Linked DNA regions of Homo sapiens. The protein of the gene in region 5 interacts with the protein of the main gene of each other region in a biochemical or structural test. Each region holds a gene or a part of one and is shown on either strand. Other genes may lie near its edges. The genes, in order: HCN2, PALLD, MAP4, ABCA2, PDLIM1, KCNV1 and PLEKHA2.

The links.
Region 1: the proteins of PDLIM1 (region 5) and HCN2 interact in a test that uses a peptide from one of them, tested with the Homo sapiens proteins (one large-scale study listed by IntAct).
Region 2: the proteins of PDLIM1 (region 5) and PALLD interact in a test that uses a peptide from one of them, tested with the Homo sapiens proteins (one large-scale study listed by IntAct).
Region 3: the proteins of PDLIM1 (region 5) and MAP4 interact in a test that uses a peptide from one of them, tested with the Homo sapiens proteins (one large-scale study listed by IntAct).
Region 4: the proteins of PDLIM1 (region 5) and ABCA2 interact in a test that uses a peptide from one of them, tested with the Homo sapiens proteins (one large-scale study listed by IntAct).
Region 6: the proteins of PDLIM1 (region 5) and KCNV1 interact in a test that uses a peptide from one of them, tested with the Homo sapiens proteins (one large-scale study listed by IntAct).
Region 7: the proteins of PDLIM1 (region 5) and PLEKHA2 interact in a test that uses a peptide from one of them, tested with the Homo sapiens proteins (one large-scale study listed by IntAct).

Annotation. Positions count from the first base shown.
Region 1 is NC_000019.10:610,381-613,880, reverse strand, and holds part of HCN2 (potassium/sodium hyperpolarization-activated cyclic nucleotide-gated channel 2), read right to left. Parts: coding exon 3,476-3,500; exon of another isoform or gene 2,727-3,475; intron 1,003-2,726; exon of another isoform or gene 634-1,002; coding exon 393-633; intron 30-392; coding exon 1-29. UniProt on the Homo sapiens protein: Hyperpolarization-activated ion channel that is permeable to sodium and potassium ions. Displays lower selectivity for K(+) over Na(+) ions. Contributes to the native pacemaker currents in heart (If) and in neurons (Ih).
Region 2 is NC_000004.12:168,895,552-168,899,051, forward strand, and holds part of PALLD (palladin), read left to right. Parts: intron 1-41; exon of another isoform or gene 42-201; intron 202-997; coding exon 998-1,048; intron 1,049-2,941; coding exon 2,942-3,163; intron 3,164-3,500. UniProt on the Homo sapiens protein: Cytoskeletal protein required for organization of normal actin cytoskeleton. Roles in establishing cell morphology, motility, cell adhesion and cell-extracellular matrix interactions in a variety of cell types.
Region 3 is NC_000003.12:48,009,917-48,013,416, reverse strand, and holds part of MAP4 (microtubule-associated protein 4), read left to right. Parts: intron 1-3,500. UniProt on the Homo sapiens protein: Non-neuronal microtubule-associated protein. Promotes microtubule assembly.
Region 4 is NC_000009.12:137,011,238-137,014,737, reverse strand, and holds part of ABCA2 (ATP-binding cassette sub-family A member 2), read left to right. Parts: coding exon 1-48; intron 49-333; coding exon 334-570; intron 571-699; coding exon 700-906; intron 907-1,174; coding exon 1,175-1,277; intron 1,278-1,419; coding exon 1,420-1,736; intron 1,737-1,812; coding exon 1,813-2,026; intron 2,027-2,147; coding exon 2,148-2,253; intron 2,254-2,361; coding exon 2,362-2,473; intron 2,474-2,575; coding exon 2,576-2,636; intron 2,637-2,719; coding exon 2,720-2,894; intron 2,895-2,988; coding exon 2,989-3,104; intron 3,105-3,183; coding exon 3,184-3,331; intron 3,332-3,428; coding exon 3,429-3,500. UniProt on the Homo sapiens protein: Probable lipid transporter that modulates cholesterol sequestration in the late endosome/lysosome by regulating the intracellular sphingolipid metabolism, in turn participates in cholesterol homeostasis.
Region 5 is NC_000010.11:95,284,504-95,288,003, reverse strand, and holds part of PDLIM1 (PDZ and LIM domain protein 1), read left to right. Parts: intron 1-3,500. UniProt on the Homo sapiens protein: Cytoskeletal protein that may act as an adapter that brings other proteins (like kinases) to the cytoskeleton. Involved in assembly, disassembly and directioning of stress fibers in fibroblasts.
Region 6 is NC_000008.11:109,963,136-109,965,771, reverse strand, and holds the end of KCNV1 (potassium voltage-gated channel subfamily V member 1), read left to right. Parts: 3' UTR 1-2,136; downstream 2,137-2,636. UniProt on the Homo sapiens protein: Potassium channel subunit that does not form functional channels by itself. Modulates KCNB1 and KCNB2 channel activity by shifting the threshold for inactivation to more negative values and by slowing the rate of inactivation.
Region 7 is NC_000008.11:38,942,846-38,946,345, forward strand, and holds part of PLEKHA2 (pleckstrin homology domain-containing family A member 2), read left to right. Parts: intron 1-943; coding exon 944-992; intron 993-3,278; coding exon 3,279-3,376; intron 3,377-3,500. UniProt on the Homo sapiens protein: Binds specifically to phosphatidylinositol 3,4-diphosphate (PtdIns3,4P2), but not to other phosphoinositides. May recruit other proteins to the plasma membrane.

The DNA.
Region 1 (3,500 bases), on a different chromosome or scaffold from region 5:
GCGGCGGCCCCGGGTGAGCAGGCAGATCTCTGCACGTGGCGCGCAGGGGGGGGTTGCTGGACGAGGCGGGCGCCGCGGCCCTCCCCGCCCAGGCACACGGCCCGGCCTCTGCACCTTGGCCAGCGTGGGCGCTTCCCACCCAGGCTCTCCCTGGTGCCGGCCCCGGCCCCATCCCCGGCCCCATCCCCGGCCCCATCCCCGGCCCCATCCCCATCCCCGGCCCCATCCCCATCCCCATCCCCGGCCCCATCCCCATCCCCATCCCCATCCCCGGCCCCATCCCCATCCCCATCCCCATCCCCGGCCCCGGCCCCGGCCCCGGCCCCCTGGCTCTGCACACCGCGGGGGTCGCGTGCCCCCTCCCCCTCCAGGCGCGCCCCCCTCAAGCTCACCCCCGAAGTAGGAGCCATCGGACAGCTTCATCTCCTTGTTGCCCTTAGTGAGCACGCTGACCACGCCGTGCTGGATGAAGTACATCTTCTTCCCGATGGTGCCTTCGCGGATGATGTAGTCACCCGGCTGGAAGACCTCGAACTTGAGCTTGGTCAGCATGGCCGTGACGAAGTTGGGGTCGGCGTTGGCGAACAGCGGCATGGAGGCCACCAGCTTCCGGCAGTTGAAGTTGACGATCTCCTGCAGGGGGGAGGCAGGGCTGGGTCCGCTGCGGACCCCACTCCCGCTTCCCCCTCGCCCTGCCTCTGGGACCGGCTCACCTCTCGGACCCCAGTTTCCTCGTCTGAGAGACGGGCTCAGCCCCGTAGCCGGAACCGAGCTGCTGCCGCCAAGGACGGGAGAAAGAAAAAACGCTCAGTGCCCCTTCGCCGTTTGACACCGTATTGGCGACATCTGCCAATACAATCGGACCAGGAGGGGCGGCTGTAGACAAGAGCGGTGGAAAGGAGGCCGGGTGCGGGGGCTCACGCGTGTGATCTCAGCATTTGCGGAGGCCGAGGCGGGAGGATCGCTTGAGCCCAGGAGTTCTAGACCAGCCTGGGCAACACGGTAAGACCCCCGTCTCTACCGGAAAAAAAAAAAACAGCCAGGCGTGGTGGTGCAGGAAGTCGAGGCTGCAGTGAGCCGTGATCCCCACACCACTGCCCTCCAGCCTGAGCGCAGAACAAGACCCTGACTCAAAAAAAAAAAAAAAGAAAATGGGGGAAAAATAAGGCCGGGCGTGGTGGCTCACACCTGTAATCCCAGCACTCTGGGAGGCCAAGGTGGGTGGATCGCCTGATGTCAGGAGTTCGAGACCAGCCTGGCCAACATGGTGAAACCCCATCTCTACTAAAAATACAAAAAATTAGCTGGGTGTGGTGGCGGGTGCCTGTAATCCCAGCTACTCGGGAGGCTGAGGCACGAGTCTCTTGAACCCGGGAGGAGGAGGTTACAGTGAACCAAGATCACACAACTGCACTGGAGCCCGGGTGACAGAGCGAGACTCCATCTCTCTCTCACACACACACACACACACACACACACACACACACCAGTGGAAAGCTACATTCGGTCAGACTATCAGGTGATTTTTGAAAAATCAACATGAAAACCAAGGGTCTGGAGATGAATCAATGGTGTGGGAAGTCAGGGCAATTCCCCTTAGCAAAGGCAGCTTCTAAGGACGGCAGGAACGTTCCAGCTTCGTTCTGTGTGGTGGTTACACCACGTTCCCTTTAGGGACCAGCTATCGAGCTGTGCCCTTATGACCTGGGGCACTTTTTGGTACTTTTTTTTTTTTTGAGACGGAGTCTCGCTCTGTTGTCCAGGCTGGAGTGCAGTGGCACAATCTCGGCTCACTGCAACCGCCGCCTCCTGGGTTCAAGCGATTCTCCTGTCTCAGCCTCCAGAGTAGCTGGGATTACAGGCGCCCACCACCACGCCCGGCTAATTTTGTATTTTTAGTGGAGACGGGGCTTCACCATGTTGGCCAGGCTGGTCTCGAACTCCTGACCTCAGGTGATCTGCCCGTCTCGGCCTCTGAAAGTGCTGGGATTACAGGCGTGAGCCACCACGCCTGGCCATATGTGGGTTTAAAGATTTGACTTTGCAACTCCTAAACACCTAAATAATGACTAAGTAGCGTGGGTTGCCAGGGGCTGGGGACGGGGAGTGAGCTGGTGACTAACACCCCAGGTCTCCTTTTGGGCCCATGAGAATGTTCTGGAGTGAGGCTGTGGTATCGGGTGCAGCACTCTGTTAATACTAAAAGCCACCGCATTTTATGCATTTTGTGGTCTGAGTGTTATATCTCTACAAATGAATGAATGGAAACCGTAGTCATCAAATGCAATTAAACATTCTTGGCGAAGCGAACCGCAGTGTGTGCCTCCTGGGAGCAACGGGTGTACACGCCCCCCCAGAGGCATTCCCGGGGCCCGAGGTCCCTAGTGTCAGGCCCGTCCTGCCCGCCTCCTCGCCCAGCTCCTCCAGCCCCTCCTCGGGGCCTCTGCCCGAGCCAGGTGCTACACCGGGGACACCCTGCCTGGCTCACACACGGCCTTGCTGATGTCGCCTCCCCGTCCTCGTCCCTCCCCGCTTCCCAGAGCTGCTCTCTGCTGCCTGCGTGATCACGGCCGCCATCCCTAGGCCCCGCTTCCTGAGGGTGGGACCTTCAAGCACACGGCAGGGCACGCAGTCGGCGCTCAATAACTGTTTGATGTGTGTTGTGGGTTGAACTACATCTCCCAGAAAGACAGGCTGACATCCTGACCCCCGGTTCCTGTGAATAGGACCTTATGTGGAAATAGGGTCTCTGCAGACATGGCCCAGTTAAGGCGAGGCCACGAGGAACCGGGTGGGCCCTGATCCAACGACGGATGAATTTACAAGAAGAGACAGAGACACACAGGGGAGAAGGCTGTGAGCAGATGGAGGCAGAGATCAGGGAGATCAATCTGCAAGCCAAGGGCGCCTGGAGCCCCAGACGCCGGAAGAGGCAGGAAGGATCCTCCCCAGGGGCTCCGGGGGGGTAGCACGGCCCGGCCCACGCCTTGATGTTGGGCTTCCGGCCTCCAGGACGGTGGGAGGCCGAATCTCCGCTGTTCAAGCCACTCAGCCTGTGGGTATTTGTTCCCGCAACCCTGGGAAACTTGCCCAGGGTCACTCAGGCTACCGGAACAGAGCTGGGAGTTAAACCCGCTCCAATCAGCCTCAGTGCCCCCAGGACCTGGTGCTCAGCGGGGCCTCTGCGGCTCCTCCCTCCCCACCCCCTGCCCTGCTTCTGCCCCGCCCTGTCAGGCACAGACCCAGGCAGTTCTGCTAAGGGGGCAGCGGGAAGCAAGGCGGGGGTGGCGGGGGTCCTGGGGGTGCAGAGGCTCACGGGGCGGGGAGGGGAGGGTGTGTACGCAGGTCTAGCTCGAGTCCCTCCTGCTGCAGCCTAGGCACCTCGCCTCCCTCAGGGACCGGCTCCTGGGCTCCAGGAGAGGGAGGCCGGCCCTGTACCGGAGGCTGCCTCCCGCCCGCCCGGCGCCCGCCTCACCTCCCGCAGGGGCCCGTTGAGCTCG
Region 2 (3,500 bases), on a different chromosome or scaffold from region 5:
ATGTTACAAAGAACATCTTAAGGAATAGAAGATACATTTACAATTCATTAAGTGGAAGTGGGTCATCATAAAGGTCTTCATCCTCATTGTCTTAAATTAGAGTGGTCTGAAGAGAAGAAGACAAGGGGTTGGTCTTGCTTATCTCAGGGGTTGCAGAAGCGGAAGAAAATCCATATATAAGTGGACCCATGCAGTTCAAACCTGTGTTGTTCAAAGATCAACTGTTTAGTCTTAATATCTAGTCAAAATAAAATAGAAAATATTATCTCTTTATCTTCTTTCACATATATACAGATGTTCTTCAACTTAGTATGGGGTTATGTCCTGATAAACTCATTATAAGTTGAAAATATTGTAAGTTGAAAGTGCATTTAAGGCGGGGCGCAGTGGCTTACGCCTGTGATCCCAGCACTTTGGGAGGCCAAGACCGGGTGGATTACCTGAGGTCAGGAGTTCAAGACCAGCCTGACCAACATGGTGAAACCCCGTCTCTACTGAAAATACAAAAATTAGCCGGGTGTGGTGGCGTGCGCCTGTAGTCCCAGCTACGCGGGAGGCTGAGACATGAGAATCGCTTGAACCCAGGAGACAGAGGTTACAGTGAGCCAAGATCGTGCCACTGCACTCCAGCCAGGTGACAGAGCGAGACTCCATCTCAAAAAAAAAAAAAAAAGTGCATTTAATACACCTAACCTACTGAACATCTTAGGTTAGCCTAGTCTATCTTAAATGTGCTCACAACACTTACATTAGCTTACAGTTGGGCAAAATCATCTAACACAAAGCCTATTTAAAATAAAGTATTGAATATCTCATGTGATTTATGGAGTCCTGTACCAAAAGTGAGAAGCAGAATGGTTGTGTGAGTACTCACAGCACCGTTACTACCAAACGCATATTGCTAGCACAAAAGTTTCACTTAAGGAAAATTAGAAATCTTGCTGCATTCTTATTATTTCTATTATTAGTCTTCACATCTTTTTTTCTACCATTACAGGACATTGGTTCTCCTCATGCTTCTGTAGGGAGTCCTCTGGATGGTCAAAAGGTTAAGCTTTTCACCTTTCTTCTCCTTCCAGTCTTTCTCTGTGTCTGTTTTCTTCTGTTCTTCCTGTTTTACGTGTGTTTCTATCTTTTCTGCCATATATTAATTATAAATGCTATGACCAGTGTCTGTTTCATTTAATATCAGATACACAAAATTACTGCAACATGAGTTTTCTTGTCATGTATTTACCAGCTTGAATTTATTTATTTATTTTTACTTTATGTATTTATTTATTTATTTATTTATTTTGAGATGGAGTTTCGCTCTTGTTGCCCAGGCTGGAGTGCAATGGTGTGATCTTGGCTCACTGCAACCTCTGTCTCCTGGGTTCAAGCGATTCTCCTGCCTCAGCCTCCCAAGTAGCTGGGATTACAAGTGCATGCCAACATGCCTGGCTAATTTTGTATTTTTAGCAGAGATGGGGTTTCACCATGTTGGTCAGGCTGGTCTCGAACTTCTGACCTCAGGTGATCCACCCGCCTTGGCTTCCCAAAGCGCTGGGAATACGGCATGAGCCACAGTGCCTGGCCTCTGACTTGAATTTAATTCTGTCATTAGTGGATACTCTGAACATTAAATCAAGAAAAATTTTTCATTTGTTATATATACCTTTCTATGGGGAACAAAAGTGCTAATTCTTCAAGGGATTAATTTGATAGTAATTAGATGAAGCAAAACAACTTGTGGTATAACTCTTGCAGTTTTATTCATACTGTTGTATTTCTTCCCTCAAACCAACAAACTTGTTTTTTAAACACTGAGTAACTTCTTTAAGAGAAAACATAGTTAAAGTTATCTTTCATTTAATATTAAATAGGGAATATTTACATAGACTCCCTTGTCTTCATTGCACTTTTTTGTTTTGGAGACAGGGTCTCACTCTTTTGCCCAGGCTTGAGTGCAGTGGCACAATCACGGCCCACTGCAGCCTCGACTTCCCAGGCTCAAGTGATCCTCCCACCTCAGCCTCCCAAGTAGCTGGGACAACAGGCATGTACCACCATGCCCAGCTACTGTTCTTTTTAAATTTTTTGTAGAGATGGGGTCTCACTTTGTTGCCCAAGCTGGTCTCAAACTCCTGGCCAGAAGCAATCCTCCCACCTCGGCCTTCCAAAGTGTTGGGAATTACAGGCATGAGCCACTGTACCTGGCCTTTAATGCACTTTGTAGGCAAGGAAATTGTAGGATCCACCGTAATCACCACAGGAATGTTGATGGGTTGTTTTTTTTTTTTAAAGCAAAATTTTGGCTAGACTGTCAGTCCTATTTTTTCTTCTAAAGATGGTGGGTTCCTAACAGCTGCAGAGCTGAGGAGGCGGCCCTTGCAAGGCAGGGATTGTTAGAGGTGGGGGAAAAAAAACAAACATTTTTTTTTTTCTATTATTCTTTTACTATTTTTTCTATTACCATTTTTTCTAGTACCATTTTTTCTATTATTCTTTTACTATAATTGTATATAATATGGCAGCTGCTTGCCACATGTACTATGTGGAGAGATGTACCACCCTGCATCAGCTTTTACCCTACAGAAGGAAATCAGCGTTCCATTATATTTTATTGTTATCAACAGTTTAGGAATACATAGCTTTGCTTTTGCCTTTTTCTTTCCTTCCCCTTGTTTCCCCTCGCCTCAGAGAAAAGAAGGAAAAAAAAATTCATCTTTCCTACCCCCCTCTTTTTGGATGATAGGACTTGAAGACAATCTGAAATACCACATAAACTCACTTCCAGATGTTTTTTGTTTCATATGCAATTGAATTGGGCTCAGACTGTGTTTTTAAGCTGTATGGTAAAAATATCACTGTCTTCTAGGGCCTTATTGGGGGGCAGGGAGAGACGTGACACTTTGTCAGAAGGGATTGAGTCTGCTAACTTAAACTTTCCTTGATTCAGGAATACAAAGTCTCCAGCTGTGAACAGAGACTCATCAGTGAAATAGAGTACAGGCTAGAAAGGTCTCCTGTGGATGAATCAGGTGATGAAGTTCAGTATGGAGATGTGCCTGTGGAAAATGGAATGGCACCATTCTTTGAGATGAAGCTGAAACATTACAAGATCTTTGAGGGAATGCCAGTAACTTTCACATGTAGAGTGGCTGGAAATCCAAAGCCAAAGGTGAGCTGGGAGATGGAGGCTTTTTAAGAGTCATTCTCTGAGGAAAGGTTTAGCTTCCAAAACATAGCATGCCAGTAGGAGAAAGAGATACAAATGATCTTTCTCAATACCCACGATATAAAGGGTTTTAAATATTCTTAAGTTCTGGGCCATCTTCAGGAGGCATTAGAAACCAAAAAAGGTGGTGGGGGGAGTGGAGTTTGGGTTTGAAGAATAGAGAATAACTAACAGGGAGCTCTTCACACACCTATATCATTTATTCCTCGTTGTTATTCCCAAATCACAAATAACTAAACTGAGTTCTGTGAAGTGAGTTTCCAAGGTCAGAGAGCTGGTG
Region 3 (3,500 bases), on a different chromosome or scaffold from region 5:
TCAAATTCTCTTGACTCTTACTCACAAATCTATTTAAAGTTAACTTTATTATCTGTATGGATAGAAGAGGAATAGTATAAATGGTCAATTGGTCAGTGAGAGGTTTTTTTTTTAGAGTAAATGCTTCTCATTCACAAGGGTTCATTTTTTGATCCTCCTGAACATCCAGATTTGAAAATAATAGTGTCATATCCTTTTATCCATAAAATATGTAACTAAGCATTTAAGGCATAACCGAATAGTAAGTAACTTCAAGTGATTCTGTGTGAGATGAAATTCATACATGAATTTATTAAAATTAATTTTGGAATACTTGAACCAGTTTAACATCTATAGAGCATTTAAAGAGTGTATTGTACTTATACATGTTTCAGAATAAAATAACTATAAAATTGGATAATCGCTTTAATTTATTGAAAACTGGGGATTTCTGGGAAAAAAAAAACAACAGTACTTTAACTTGAAAGATGACACTAGCATTACCTTTCTAGGATCATTTTCCATAAGGGGGTGTGTGTGTGTATTTTAAAATCATATTCTATTTATGTGGTGACAAGTAAAGAATAGCTTAACTGTTGATGAAATACAGATGCTAAGTGGCTAGCTAGATGTGCTCATAGCTTCATGACCTTCCCACTTTCCAATTGTATAATTTTCTATCAGTTTTACCCTCTTAGGCTGAATTTCAGCTACTGTTCATATTCCATGAACCACATGCAGCCCAGGAAGTCATCTGAGAGTGTGTGGCTGGGGGCGGGGTGGGGGTGCTGAGGGTTGGATAGGGGAAAGATTACAATGGATAAAAGCTGCCCTTTGATAATCTGCATTCTGATAAATGATATTTAAAATGTATTGGTGTTTTTGACTGTATTTTTACCCTGTGCCTTAAATGAGGAAAAGATTTGAGTAGATTGCATCTTATGTCATTATGTATTTCTGGGGAAAATTAAATTTTGGATTTTTATGGTATGTTGTTAAGGATGGCACAGATGTCCTTTTAAGTTCTCTTTGACCATGAAACTGATGCAGGATTTTTGCTCCTTAGCTCAACTAGGTCCAGGTTCTTATCTCAGGAGCGGAAGAATTAGGCACGTGGACATCAAAGAGTGAGTGGAGTAGAATCTATTAATCGAAAGGAAAGCTCTTAGCAAAAAGAGAGAACATGGTAGGTGGTTCTACTACCTGAAGACAGGAAAGTTCCGTAATATGGCTGAGCCTGGGGCTCTTTATTGGTTCAGAATGGGAGTGTGTGGTCATTGGTTTGTGAGTATGCAAAAAAGGTCAAAGCGAAGACACCACTCCAAGGTGGGCAGGACAGTGTAGAAAACCAATTAGGAAAGGGTAGGTACAGGTTAAATAGGTGAAGGATGGGGATCAATCATGCCAAACGGGAAGGCAGGTTCTTAATCCGATCTCAGGATTTACCCAGGACAGTTTCCGGATTAAAGTTCGGGTTTCACTGAGGACCCGCCCCTGTCTGCCTAGACATTTGTTTGCCTCTTGCCTCTATCAAAACTAGTTACAGACGTCCTTTTTAGTTTTTGGTTCATAACAGCTCCCAAAGGATAACTACTAATAATAGTTGTCAGAGATAGAATAGGGAAATGGCATAACCGAATAGTAAAAGCAACTGAATAGTTGCTTTTCATGGAACCCTTTGACATTATAATCTGTTAGGCTTTTAAAAGCTCTTTAATGAACTCATTTCTCAGCATTTTCCCTGTCATGATCTGGAGTTACAATAATACTTTATATGTAAAGTAGGCTGGACGAGCATAGAATAGGGCTTCCCACCCACATTCGTCTGTTGTAAATGGGTCACAGGTGTGCCACTACTACTATAGGAACTTTTTTTTTTTTTTTTGAGACGGAGTCTTGCTCTGTTACGTAGGCTGGAGTGCAGTGGCGTGATCTTGGCTCACTGCAGCCTCCACCTCCTGGGTTCAAGCAATTTTCCTGCCTCAGCCTCCTGAGTAGCTGGGATTACAGGTGCATACCATCTAAATAATAAAAATCAGTGCCCAGCTAGTTATTCTGTTTTTGTATTTTTAGTAGAGATAGGGTTTTACTGTGTTGGCCAGGCTGGTCTCAATCTCCTGGCTTCAAGTGATCCACCCGCCTTGGCCTCCCAAAGTGCTGGGAGATTACAGGCTGGGATTACCAAGTCCAGTTCCTACTATAGGAACCATTGAATTCCTATTTATGGTTCCTTCAGAAAAGCTGCTAAATCCTGAATTCGGCAGTGGTTATTCAAATAGTGGAATTTATAATTCCAGTAGTGTGAGATGGCATTTGCTGTGGACAACAGCTCTGTCATGCCACAGGAGCCCCTTTGGCAGCAAAGCTATCAGTTTTTGTCACGAGCCCCACACTACTTGTTTTAGTCAGGATTCTCTTAGAGGGACAGAACTAATAGGATATATCTCCAAAGGAGAGTTTATTAAGTATTGATTTACGTGATCACAAGGTCCCACAGTAGGCTGTCTGCAAGCTGAGAAGCAAGGAGAGCCAATCCGAGTCCCCAAAATGAAGAACTTGGAGTCCGATGTTCGAGGGCAGGAAGCATCCAGCACGGGAGAAAGATATAGGCTGGGAGGCTAGGCCCATCTCTTCATGTTTTTCTTCCTGCTCTATATTCGCTGGTGGCTGATTAGATGGTGCCCACCCAGTTAAGGGTGGGTCTGCCTTCCCCAGCCCACTGACTCAAATGTTAATCTCCTTTGGCAACACCCTCACAGATACACCCAGGATCAATATTGCATCCTTCAGTCCAATCAAGTTGACAGTATTAACATTACAAGTCCACTCCTTGTCAACTTGAACCCATATACATCTGAGATCGTATGTAATCTTAAAATAAAGACAATAATAAGGTCATAATTACACCTAATGTAATAAAACTATCCTTCATACAACCAGAAACACACCAATCCCCAACCCAAATACTATTACATAAAGTTAATAATACTTAAATGCTGTTATGAAATCAATAAATCTTATGTCACATGATAAAGGAAAAGGAAATATAAAGTGAAGATATTAGTACATGTGTATACATACACAAACATGTTTTTAACAAATGAAGGAGGAAATACTCATGGCAGTTACAGTCCTCATTTCTGCAGCTGGTCACGTGGTCATAGCTGGTATTGATGACTACCTTCTTCTACCCATTCTGTATTAACTTTGCCTTCCCCAAATACCTCAGCAGGTCATGGGTTTTTTTCCTGGTGGAGTGATCCAAACCTTCATTCCTGAATGGTCCGGATCATTTGTAGTCCTGCCTGGATTTGGCTGTTGTGGTTTTGCATTGACAGTAATCACAGGGCATGGTAATACGAAGAGATGCCCTAATGGGTCTCATGTATTCCATGCATACTCTTCCTTACTTCCGTTGTGAAGTTGTAGACTGATTTCATCTTGATAGTCTGGGTCAGTCACCTTAGCCAACACTGTAACTCCCCCTCTGAGCCTGTTGACTTAAAGGGAGGAGGAGCCCA
Region 4 (3,500 bases), on a different chromosome or scaffold from region 5:
TCCTCAAGGTGTCGGAGGAGGATCAGTCGCTGGAGAACAGTGAGGCCGGTGAGGGGCCTGGACCACTTGCTCAGCCCACCCCACCCACAAGGCCCCAGCTCGGGCCTGCGCTGTCACTCCTGCCTGGTGTCTGGGGGCGCCACCCTGGTCCTGGGTGGAAGCCAGGGGACGCCCCGGGGTTAGCCTGCGGTCCTAGGTGGGTGGTCCTGGTGGCCAGAGGTCCCGGACAGGTGTATGAGCCTGGGAACTGGGGTCAAGACCGGGGATGGGGGTCCTGGGCAGGCCTAGGGGCCAGTAGCCCTGAGTGTCCCCTCGGCCCTTCCACTGCGGCAGATGTGAAGGAGTCCAGGAAGGATGTGCTCCCTGGGGCGGAGGGCCCGGCGTCTGGGGAGGGTCACGCTGGCAATCTGGCCCGGTGCTCGGAGCTGACCCAGTCGCAGGCATCGCTGCAGTCGGCGTCATCTGTGGGCTCTGCCCGTGGCGACGAGGGAGCTGGCTACACCGACGTCTATGGCGACTACCGCCCCCTCTTTGATAACCCACAGGACCCAGACAATGTCAGCCTGCAAGGTGGGGGTGGCAGGGTGAGGCTGGGACAGCAAGGGAGGGGGAGCAGGGTTGCGGGGGAGCGGCATGAGGGCAGCCAGTAGGGAGAGGGTAGCGTGCAACCACCTGCTCAGCCTCTACCTCTCTGCACAGAGGTGGAGGCAGAGGCCCTGTCGAGGGTCGGCCAGGGCAGCCGCAAGCTGGACGGCGGGTGGCTGAAGGTGCGCCAGTTCCACGGGCTGCTGGTCAAACGCTTCCACTGCGCCCGCCGCAACTCCAAGGCACTCTTCTCCCAGATCTTGCTGCCAGCCTTCTTCGTCTGCGTGGCCATGACCGTGGCCCTGTCCGTCCCGGAGATTGGTAGGCCACCGGCTGGACAGGGGTGCTGGGCTTGCCTCCCCCCACCGCCCGCTGGGAGCCCTGATGATGCCCACTCCTGAGCTTCCTGACTCTGGGCCTCACCCCACACCTGAGGCTGGGCACGCACCGGGGTTCATCCGGGAGTCCTGTCTCCTCGGGTCCCAGACCCCAGGCGTGGATCCCTTGGGGTTGGGGGAAGGGGACCGAGGCTTGGGGGCCGCTGGCCAGAGGGCAGAACCTGCTCAGGCCTCCCTGCTCGCCCTGCCAGGTGATCTGCCCCCGCTGGTCCTGTCACCTTCCCAGTACCACAACTACACCCAGCCCCGTGGCAATTTCATCCCCTACGCCAACGAGGAGCGCCGCGAGTACCGGTGAGGCCTCCAGCGGGGGCAGCCTTGGTGGGTGGGGCGAGTGAAGGGGCGGGGACAGCCTTGGTGGGCCAGGCGGGCGAGGGGGCGGGGCTGGCGAGGGGCGGAGACTGGCAGCCCCACCTCACACTGTCGGTGCCCGCAGGCTGCGGCTATCGCCCGACGCCAGCCCCCAGCAGCTCGTGAGCACGTTCCGGCTGCCGTCGGGGGTGGGTGCCACCTGCGTGCTCAAGTCTCCCGCCAACGGCTCGCTGGGGCCCACGTTGAACCTGAGCAGCGGGGAGTCGCGCCTGCTGGCGGCTCGGTTCTTCGACAGCATGTGTCTGGAGTCCTTCACACAGGGGCTGCCACTGTCCAATTTCGTGCCACCCCCACCCTCGCCCGCCCCATCTGACTCGCCAGCGTCCCCGGATGAGGACCTGCAGGCCTGGAACGTCTCCCTGCCGCCCACCGCTGGGCCAGGTAGTGGTTCAGGGGGCCTGCTGGGGGGGCAGGGGCAGTGAGGGGTCCTTCTCACCGCACCATGCTGTGCCCACAGAAATGTGGACGTCGGCACCCTCCCTGCCGCGCCTGGTACGGGAGCCCGTCCGCTGCACCTGCTCTGCGCAGGGCACCGGCTTCTCCTGCCCCAGCAGTGTGGGCGGGCACCCGCCCCAGATGCGGGTGGTCACAGGCGACATCCTGACCGACATCACCGGCCACAATGTCTCTGAGTACCTGCTCTTCACCTCCGACCGCTTCCGACTGCACCGGTGAGCTGGGTGGGGAGGCTGTGGGTGAGGGTGGCCGGCCACCAGCCACCTAGTCTCAACTCCTGCCCCTCTAGCCTCACTGCCTGCCTAGCCTCACCGCCCCTCCCACCTGCCTGCCCAGGTATGGGGCCATCACCTTTGGAAACGTCCTGAAGTCCATCCCAGCCTCATTTGGCACCAGGGCCCCACCCATGGTGCGGAAGATCGCGGTGCGCAGGGCTGCCCAGGTGAGCGAGGCTGCGGGCCTGGGCCCCGCTGTGTGTAGCGCCGCCCGAGGTCTGCAGGGACCCAGGTCTGAGGTCCTGGGGCCTTTCTGTGTCCTCTTCCTTCTGCAGGTTTTCTACAACAACAAGGGCTATCACAGCATGCCCACCTACCTCAACAGCCTCAACAACGCCATCCTGCGTGCCAACCTGCCCAAGAGCAAGGGCAACCCGGCGGCTTACGGTGAGCTGACATAGGCAGGGCGGGGCGGGGCGGGGAGGAGCTGGGGCCGGGGCGGGGAGGAGCTGGGGCCTGAAGCTGCCGCCCCCGCCCCGCCGTGTGCAGGCATCACCGTCACCAACCACCCCATGAATAAGACCAGCGCCAGCCTCTCCCTGGATTACCTGTAAGTGTGGCCAGTGGGGGATGAGGTGGGGCAGGTGGGCACTGCAGCCCCGGCCGTGAGGACTGAGGGCTTCCTTGCCCCAGGCTGCAGGGCACGGATGTCGTCATCGCCATCTTCATCATCGTGGCCATGTCCTTCGTGCCGGCCAGCTTCGTTGTCTTCCTCGTGGCCGAGAAGTCCACCAAGGCCAAGCACCTGCAGTTTGTCAGCGGCTGCAACCCCATCATCTACTGGCTGGCGAACTACGTGTGGGACATGGTGCGCCCGGCGTGGCCATGGGGTGCCCCGGCCCTTCTCATCCCCCATCCCCGCCCTGCCCCGGGTCTCTCACCAGCCGCCCCCACCCCTGCAGCTCAACTACCTGGTCCCCGCTACCTGCTGTGTCATCATCCTGTTTGTGTTCGACCTGCCGGCCTACACGTCGCCCACCAACTTCCCTGCCGTCCTCTCCCTCTTCCTGCTCTATGGGTAAGCGGAAGCGGAGGGGGGAGCGGCCTCAGGTGGGACCGGGGCTGCCTGGTGACCACTGCCCGCCACCTGCCCGCAGGTGGTCCATCACGCCCATCATGTACCCGGCCTCCTTCTGGTTCGAGGTCCCCAGCTCCGCCTACGTGTTCCTCATTGTCATCAATCTCTTCATCGGCATCACCGCCACCGTGGCCACCTTCCTGCTACAGCTCTTCGAGCACGACAAGGTGGGGCGGTGACGACATGGTGGGGGTGGCGGACCCTGCGGAGGCTGTGCCCCTCACCCCGGCCACCCCTGTGCCCCTGACCCCGGCCACCCCGCAGGACCTGAAGGTTGTCAACAGTTACCTGAAAAGCTGCTTCCTCATTTTCCCCAACTACAACCTGGGCCACGGG
Region 5 (3,500 bases):
TTACCACCTAAATTAGGTATCCCAAATACCATAGCTTAATTTTGCCTGTTTCTGAACAGACTCATACAGAACACGTGTGTGTGTGTGTGAACAGCTTCTTTAGCTCCTTAATGTTTTCATCTAGTATCGTTATCAACTTAAAATTTCAACCCAGGTTTCCAACTTTAAGTGGACATAGGCTAGCTTCTTTTACCCACATTCTCGTTTAGTGCTCTTGCCTTGTGTTCCCTGATGATCCAGCCACACATTTGCCACTGTTCTCTGATATTTTTTTCTGTCAGTTCCTGCTTCAAATCAACACTTGCCCATTTCCTTGAGGTATTTTTTTAATTAAAAAAATTTTCCATGTTAATTTCTCCTTCCCTCTAGTTACTTTCAAGGGAAGCCTTCAGAGAAATACCCAGGCCAACATTGCAACTCAGTTTATGTTGACTGTTTTTCTCTCCCAGCAACTGATAAAAGACAGGAAAGGGTGAGGCCAAGATCAAGGGATGCCCTTAGTTGGAGGAGTTGCTCATTTGTCTCTGGAGTCCTGGGGAACCCTTTGCTAAGAGCTGAGCGGTTCTGTGGCAAATGCTTATGCTTTTTCTCAAGTATCCCAAGGGATGCTTAATAATGGTTACTGTGGCCAGAGGGTCATTTCTGATTTTTAAGAGTGGTATTTCCGGATTCAGATAGATTTTACATCATGTCGTAAAGATTGAAAGAGAAGGGTTTGTCTGTCAGATTATGAAAAGCAGGAAATGTCCAAAAAGGGTCATTATGTTTTAATGGCCATTGTGCTGCATGCCCTTGGTCTGTGAAATTGATACCTGGGAAATATTAGCGACTTCAGCTGCTCACAGCTGACTTAAGGAGAGAGGGGGAAGAGGACAAACCAAAGAGAATGACATGTAAGTGAATGCCTGAGCCCATACTACATTATCACCCTCTGACCAGATAGTCTCCCCTCCCTAAACTCCTGATGCCAACCTTGCTGGTTTGTTTGAGGAGGCAAGAGGGAAGAACAGTGGCTTTAGGGTATTGCAGCCAGGTAGATGACTGAGAGGAGAGTGTCATCTAAGCGTCTGGGTCATATTCTCCTAGGCTGACCAGGACTGGGAAAAGCACCAAGGAATTGCTGTGTACTGGGATCAGGATAGGACTGGCACATTCTTAGGCCATGCCTTAACTCTTGCTCCACAGAGGAGAGGAAAGCTAGCATTCTTTGCCTTTTGCAAACAGAAAAGCTCAGGTGCTCACAGGTTAGGTAATTTGGTTGAATTTACATAATTTCTCACTGGCTGACTTACTACTCAACTTCCTTGTAAAGGATAGGATAGAGACTGGAGCAAAAGTGGTTGTGTCAGAAAACTAACTTTTAAAGGATTATTTCGCTTCCAGTAGGTCTCAGAGGAAAGCCTGGGGGAAGCTTCCAGGACTTTAATTGAGGGCCTGGTACAATGTCCAGGGCAGGGACTCAAGCTGAGCTCTAGTCCGGAGCACCTTGGTGGGTGATCCTGGGAAAATCATATGTCTTCTCCTGGGTTCAGTTCCCTGTAAAGATAAAATAAAATAATATTCCCTGTAAAGATAAAATAAAATAATAAGCAAGCAAACCCAGAGGTTTTCATACCCTTTGAATATGAGAGCTACTTTTTTTTTTTTGAGACAGGGTGTCGCTCTGTTGCCCAGGCTAGAGTTCAGTGGCATGATCTCGGCTCACTGCAACCTCCACCCCCTGGGTTCAAGCGATTCTTGTGCCTCAGCCTCCTGAGTAGCTGGGATCACAGGCATGAGCCACCACATGTGGCTAATTTTTGTATTTTTAGTAGAGATGGGGTTTCGCCATGTTGGCCAGGCTTGTCTCAAACTCCTGGCCTCAAGTGACCTGCCCACCTTAGCCTCCCAAAGTGCTGGGATTACAGGCATGAGCCAAGAGCCCACTTTTTTATTGTTAGAGTGTCCTAGTCTCTCATGGCATTAGTTGTACCTTCAATCATAAGTTGATTTAGAAAACACTGTGATTTCAGGAATGTTTCAGATGTATTTGTCTTCTGTTAATCACAGCAGCATCCATTTACATTTGAAAGATTTGTGTGAGAAATATTTATTTGATCTGCTTGCAGTAATAACCATAGTTAAAACATATATAGGACTTTTAATATGCCAGGCACCATTCTAAGACCATAATATATTCAGTGATCTTCACACGTATTTTGTGAGGTAGGATTAAGATCCCCATTTTACAGATGAGGGAACTGAGGCTTGGAGACCTTAAGTACACTGCCTGCATCATATAGCAGTGAGTGGTAGAGCTGGAGTTTGGCTGGGGAGTCCGGCTTCCAAGCCTGTAGTCTTAATCTCTATGTCATAGTAATATATTAATAACAGCTAACATTTTTTGAGTGCCTGCTCTGTGCTAAGCATGCACTTACATTATCTTCTTCTGTATTCCCCACAACCCATGACAGAGGGACACAGAACACAAAGTCAGACAATTGCAGAGCTGGGAAGTGAAGCCAGGCAGACTCACTTCCAGGCCAGCTTTAACCACTATATTCTGCCTCCTAATAAGCCATAACTGTCAATATTTCATTGCTAACAGTGTTAACCCAGCACACAGCTCTGAAAAGTGCTAAGGGTGGTGCAGGCTTCAACATGAGGGATAAGACACTCCTGGGCTCCACACCCTGGAGCCTCTCATTCTCCTGAGGTTGGTTGGGGTGGCTCTCCAGTTGCCTTGTGGCCTCAGCTCAGAGCACCTCAGAAAGCAGCACCTCCCTTCCCTGTCCCTCCTGAAAAACTGAAAGTCATGGCCCCACCTGGGAGAATTTACAGTCCAGTTATGAGGTTCCATGCCCACTTGGACAGTGAAGAACAAGAGCAGAGGAGTGGAAGGACTGGCTAGAGAAAGACCTGCTTGTGGGGGATAGGAGGGCATTTGGGAATGGTTCTTGTGGTAGATGAAGATGACCAGGCAGTGAACAGTTCCACCTTGCGGTAGCCAAGCTAAGTCCAAAACCGAATATACCCATGAAACCTAAGACAAAAAAGGTAATTCCTGTATGGCTGTTAGCACCCTGTGTGATTATTGATACTCTTGTTAGCCACATCCTGGGCAAATTGGGCTGCTCATCCGTGGCTGAGTTCTGTGGTGCACTTTCCCATGTGTAATACACTGTCTCCTTGGTAAATGCCATAAATACTAAAAATGATTTTGTGAAGAACACAGCGGTCTTGTAGGAGGCCAGATTCCTTACTGAACACTCAGGGACTAATTTTTATAGACACGACCATTCGTATCAAGTAAGACAATAAGAACATAGATAGGACCTAGTTTAGATAAAGATATTGAAAATGCATACAGAGGCTGGGCTTGGTGGCTTATGTCTGTAATCCCAGCACTTTGGGAGGCCAAGGTGGGTGAATCACCTGAGGTCAGGAGTTTGAGGCCAGCCTGGCCAACATGGTGAAACCCTGTCTCTACTAAAAATTCAAAAATTAGCCAGGCGTAGTGG
Region 6 (2,636 bases), on a different chromosome or scaffold from region 5:
AGAAGTTCAATATGCCTTAAGTAAAATATCAGCTTATTCTCAGAGGTGGAATGGTGCTTTTAAGAAAAGGCTGTGGTGACACCTTATAGTCATTATTAGATTAAAAATATATTATCTTTAGAGTAAATAGTAGTTGGAAATAAAAAAAATTAAAAACTATGTGTATACATATGTATATATGTTTTTATCATGGAGGATCCTAAACATCTTCTCTACAAATGTGCTGTTAGCTATATAAATGTTGTCAAGATGTAGGTCTTCAGAAAGAAGTTTTAAAATATCATTGCTTACTCAATTTTGCTGTTAAATAAAATATCATTTTATTTATTCAATGAATGTATATATAAGCAAACCAAATTTCATTTAGGTAAAAAAATCAAGGCAGGAACTCTGCCAATTTTATAACCCATTATTTTAAAACAGTAAACACTTTTTAAACATCTAAGAATTATTGTTATAAAACAATATTTAATTTTTTAAAATATAAAATAATTGAATTATTGTCTTTCTCTAAGCTATTTAGAGAACACTACTTTCTTTGTTTTGTTTTGGTTTGGTTTTTTGAGACGGAGTGTCCGTCTGTCGCCCAGGCTGGAGTGCCAGTGGCGCGATCTCGGCTCACTGCAAGCTCCACCTCTTGGGTTCACACCATTCTCCTGCGTCAACCTCGCGAGTAGCTGGGACTAGAGGCGCCCGCCACCACGCCTGGCTAATTTTTTGTATTTTTAGCAGAGACGGGGTTTCACCGTGTTAGCCACTTTCTTTGTTAATTTAACTGTTATTTTAAGTTCAGGGATACATGTGCGGGTTTGTTATACAGGTAATCTTGTGTCATGAGAGTTTTTTTGCACGGATTATTTCATCACCCAGGTATTAAACCTAGCACCAGTTATTTTTCCTGATTCTCTCCCTCCTCCTACCCAGCACCCTCTGATAGGCCCCAATGTGTGTTGTTTCCCTCTATGTGTTCATGTGCTCTCATCATTTAGCTCCCACTTATAAGTGAGAACATGTGGTATTTGGTTTTCTCTTCCTGCATTAGTTTGCTAAGGATAATAGCCTCCAGCTCCATCCATGTCCCTGCAAATGACATGATCTCATTCTTTCATATGGCTGGATAGTACTTCATGGTGTATACATACATTTTCTTTATCCAGTCTACAGTTGATGGGCATTTAGGTTTATTCCATGTCTTTGCTACTGTGAATAATGCTGCATTGAACATACGTGTGCATGTATCTTTATAATAAAACAATTTATATTTCTTGGGTATATACCCATTAATGGGATTGCTGGATCCAGTGGTATTTCTGTTTTTAGGTCTTTGAGGAATTGCCACACTCTCACATGGCTGAACTAATTTACACTCCCAGTATCAGTGTATATGCGTTCCAATTGCTCCATAACTTCGCCAGCATCTGCTTTTTTTTTTTTGCTTTTTAATAATAGCCATTCTGACTAGTGTGAGATGGTATCTCATTATGGTTTTGATTTGCGTTTCTCTAATGATCAGTGATATTGAGGCTTTTTTTCATATCATTGTTGGCTGCATGTATGTTTTCTTTTGAAAAGTGTCTGTTCATATCCTTTGCCCACTTTTTAATGGGATTTTTTTTTCTTGTAAATTTGTTTAAGTTTCTTATAGATGCTGGAATATTAGACTTTTGTAGATGTATAGTTTGCAAATATTTTCCCCCAATCTGTAGGTTGTCTGTTCACTCTGTTGATAGGTTCCTTTGCTCTGACAAAGCTCTAGAGTTTAATTAGATCCCATTTGCCAATTTTTGCTTTCGTTGCAACCACCTTTTGTGTCTTCATCATGAAATCTTTGCCTGTTAGAAAACACTACTTTCAGACATTTAAATGCATATAGGCAATGCTTAAGTACCTAAAAAAGCAATTTTAAGAAATTACTGAGGTATCTCTATTAAGAGTGACATATTCATATTTTATTTTATGTATATATTATTTCTATAACATACAAGAAATTGTTGCATTTATCATTTTAATGCAAAGTAGTATCAAGTATAATGGATTAGATGCAAAAATAACTGAGGTAGGAATCTCAGTTCTGTGTTTTAATGTGGAATTCTTATGCTTATTAAAATATTTTGATTAGCTGTTGCAGAAAATATATATGCTGACCCAATTTATCTAAGCAAAACATTGTCATTGGATAAGCTTAATACTTTGAGAAATATTTTTATTGATACATTATGTTAACAAGAAAAGTCTCTTCTTTTGAAATATTAGCCATTAATAACTGTCTTATGAATCCTTCAGTTCAGATCCAACAAGATATTGGATAGCAGGCAAATGATGTGTTCTGATGATCTCCTTCATGATTTTTCTTTGCAAAGCATCACCACCCCAGAACTCTCTCCAAGCCATACTAATATAAGGAAGACAAATGTCACACAGGGAGAGCTTTACTCATCAACGGCAGTTGCCTACCTGGTACGTTTTTAGGGACGACAGGGAAACCTGGATACTCACCATCCTTATGTTCTCACTGTGCTTATATTACATTATATTATATTATATTATATTATATTATATTATATTATATTATAATCACTCCCTTGCTTGCCTTTTCAACTCTAGTGCCCCTCTCTTCCTTCCTGGTATTAAATTGG
Region 7 (3,500 bases), on a different chromosome or scaffold from region 5:
AGAAATACCTCCTCTGTTTCTTGCCCTTCCCTGAGATATATAGGAATGTTCTCCGATTCCATCAGCCCCTCTCTGGGCACCTGGAAGGTGCTTATTTTCATGGTTAGGCCATCAGGGCAGATGTAAAGGCAATTGTTCCATGTGTCTGAGGGCAGCGAGCAGCCTGCTGCTTCATCTCTCTGAGTGTTCTGATTGGAATCCATGCATTTGTAGCAATATTGCCTTCAGCTTGGAGAACGATTTAGGGAGAGGGTTGGCGGTTGAAAGAGGAGGGGAGGAGGGGAATCTTGCTAGTGTGAATGAGGCCAGGATAGGTTTTCGTCAGGACTTAGTGGCTTTTAAAAGTCTTTTTGAGCTGGGTGCAGTGGCTCATACTTGTAATCCTAACACTTTGGGAGGCTGAGGCGGGAGGATTGCTTGAGCCCAGGAGTTTGAGACCAGCCTGGGCAACATAGCAAGACCCTGTTTCTGCAAATATTTTTCTTTTTTAAAAAAAACTAGCCAGGCATAGGGGCATTTAAAAAAAATTAGCCAGGAGGTGGAGACTGGAGGATCACTTGAGCCCAGGAGTTGGAGGCTGCAGTGAGCTATGATTGCACCACTGTACTCCAGCCTGGGTGACAGAGTGAGACCCTATATCTAAATAAATAAATAAATAATAAACATAAGTCTTTTTGTAAAGATGAACAGACCTCAAGATAATGGTTATCTCTGACGGTGGGGATTCTGTCAGGGAGGGGCACACAGGGCTTCTAAGAAATAGGACTGATAATGCCTGTTTCTTAATCTGGATGATGAGTACAGGGTTTTCATTTAATTATTATTTTTTAAAAATGTAGACATATGTTTAATGTACTCTTTATATATGAGAAATTTCACAATAAGAAATCTTCAACATTGTAAGACACATATTCATGTTTCTTTTATTTCTTATTTGATTTAGGTGAGCATAGCTACCCCAAAACAGAAACCAAAAACTCCATTTTGCTTTGGTAAGTACTGAGCCAGGGGAGGGACTCATTTAATATTGACATGGCAACTTCCTCTTTTGCATGGAGACAGTCCTGTGATCACATGTGACTATACCCTGTGAGTATGAGTGACTTAAATCACAGTGACGGTCCTGGACGTCAAGTGATATTGTTTTCCCTGGTCTTGCTGCAAAGGTTGTTAATAACATAAGGACAGAGGTTCAGGGACTAGTAACATTTCTGTTTTCTTTCTTTTTTTTTTGGTTTTAGTTTTATTTTTTAAGTTGACAAATAATAATTATATATATTCATGGGGTACATAATGTATAGAGTAATTAGCATATCTATATTAGTCTGTTCTTGAACTGCTATAAAGAAATACCTGAGACTGGGTAATTTAAAAAGAGAACAGGTTTGCCCGGGCCTGGTGGCTCACACCTATAATCCCAGCACGTTGGGAGGCCGAGGCGGGCAGATCACCTGAGATCAGGAGTTTGAGACCAGCCTGGCCAACATAGTGAAACCCCATCTCTACTAAAAATACAAAAAAATTAGCTGGGCGTGGTGGTGAGTACCTGTAATTCCAGCTACTCGGGAGGCTAAGGCAGGAGAATCTCTTGAACCCAGGAGGCGGAGGTTGCAGTGAGCTGATTTCAGGCCATTGCACTCTACTCCACCTCAAAAAAAGAAAAAAAAAAGAGGTTTAATTGGCTCAGTGTTCTGCAGGCTCTATGGGGCCAGAGGAGAAGCAAGAAAGAGAGTGGGGAGGTGCTATGCATATTTAAATAACCAAATTTCACAAGAACTCACTATTATGACACAACAGCATGGGGGATGGTGTTAAACCATGAGAAACCGCCCCCACGACCCATCATGATCCAGTCACCTCCCACCAGGCCCCACCTCCAACATTGAGGATTACAATTGAACATGAGATTTGGGTAGGGACACAGATTTGGGTGGGGACAGAGATCCAAACCATATCAATGTCCATCATCTCGAACATTTTTTTCTTTTAATAATTGTCCATATGCATTTCAGTTTTCTTGATGCCACAAGGCAGGTGCAAAATGTCCACTATAAGTTTCTGTGAACCTTATTTTAGAGCTGAGAAATGTTGTGCTCAGAAAAGATGGAGGACTCAGAGGAGACGCAGATGGCAGTGCCAGGAAGGGGATAAGACAAAGGAAGGAGAATTCTGTTAAGGGTCTCAGTTGCCCAATAGTGACATGTTGGGGGATGGTGTAGGAGGCAGAGTCACCGTGCATGGGTGCCTCAAGTCAGGAAGTGGTCAGTGAATTCAGTGAATCCATCATCAAATAGTTACTTGGCTCCTACTATGTTCTCACAGCTGTGCTAAGTGCTATGAGCAAATGCTAACAAATAGTTTCTGTTGCCTATCTGGGGTGGTTCTGAATGTAAGTTTCACAAAGGCAGGGGTATTCCTCTGCCTTGTCACTGTGGTATCCTCAGCACTTAAAGATGTTTCCTAGCGCATAGTAGGTGCTCAGTAAATATTTGTCAAATGAATGAATGAACGGATGAATTCTGCATCTACCCCATGAGACTCACCTCCTACAGTTCAAGCTTATGCTAAGAGAATAAAGTATTCCCTTGAGCGATTCTGTCTCCCCACCTCAGATTTGTTCAGACTTCTTTGGCATGCTCATTCTTCTATTTCTTGCAAATTTCATAGCTAAGCTCAGAAATGACTCTCACGTTTTGTGGTTATCAGATCTGAAAATATATATATGTAATAATAGTGAATGTGGAAGTAAATTGTTGACCTAATGGAATGCTCAGAGGAAAGAACAGGTTGAGAGTGAGGCCAAGGTCACAGATTTGATCTCAGGAAAGCTTTGTTCTATTTCCCAACCACAGACAACTCTCCCAGTCCAGACCAGTTGTGCCAGAGGAGACCAAGCATGGGTCCAAAATTCTGTATATACCGTGATGACAGTAAATGTATTAGCACCGCCAGAATGCGGTTCACAGTTGTGTCTTGTTGACGGCAGACCAGCAGCCTCATCACCGCAGAACAGCACACTGAGGCTGCTGTTAACATGGTCAGGTGTTGTTCCTGTGGCCAATGGGATGTTTTTAAAGGTGGGAAAGAGAGTGAGCAGGTGTGGCCTGGGGCTTCCTAGATATCCAGGCAAATGACTTAGCATCATGGGAGATTTCTTGTTCTGCTTTGTGGAGTTCACTCATCTCACTCCCTCAAACACCTTAGCTTTGTGGAGACTTGTTGTATTGCTTGTATTCTGACCTAGGAATGTCTTCCCTTCTTTTCTGTGGCTTTTGTAGTTATCAATGCCCTGTCTCAGAGATATTTCCTTCAAGCCAATGATCAGAAAGATATGAAGGACTGGGTTGAAGCCCTGAACCAAGCCAGCAAGATCACCGTAAGTTTGGTTTCTTCTGTTTTCTGGTGGTAGTAAAAGTGCCTCTTCCCAGGCTATGGCCTTGTTGGGGTTGGGGAAAACTGAGATGGCAGCGGGGACTTTCCCAGGAGCCTGGTCTGTACCC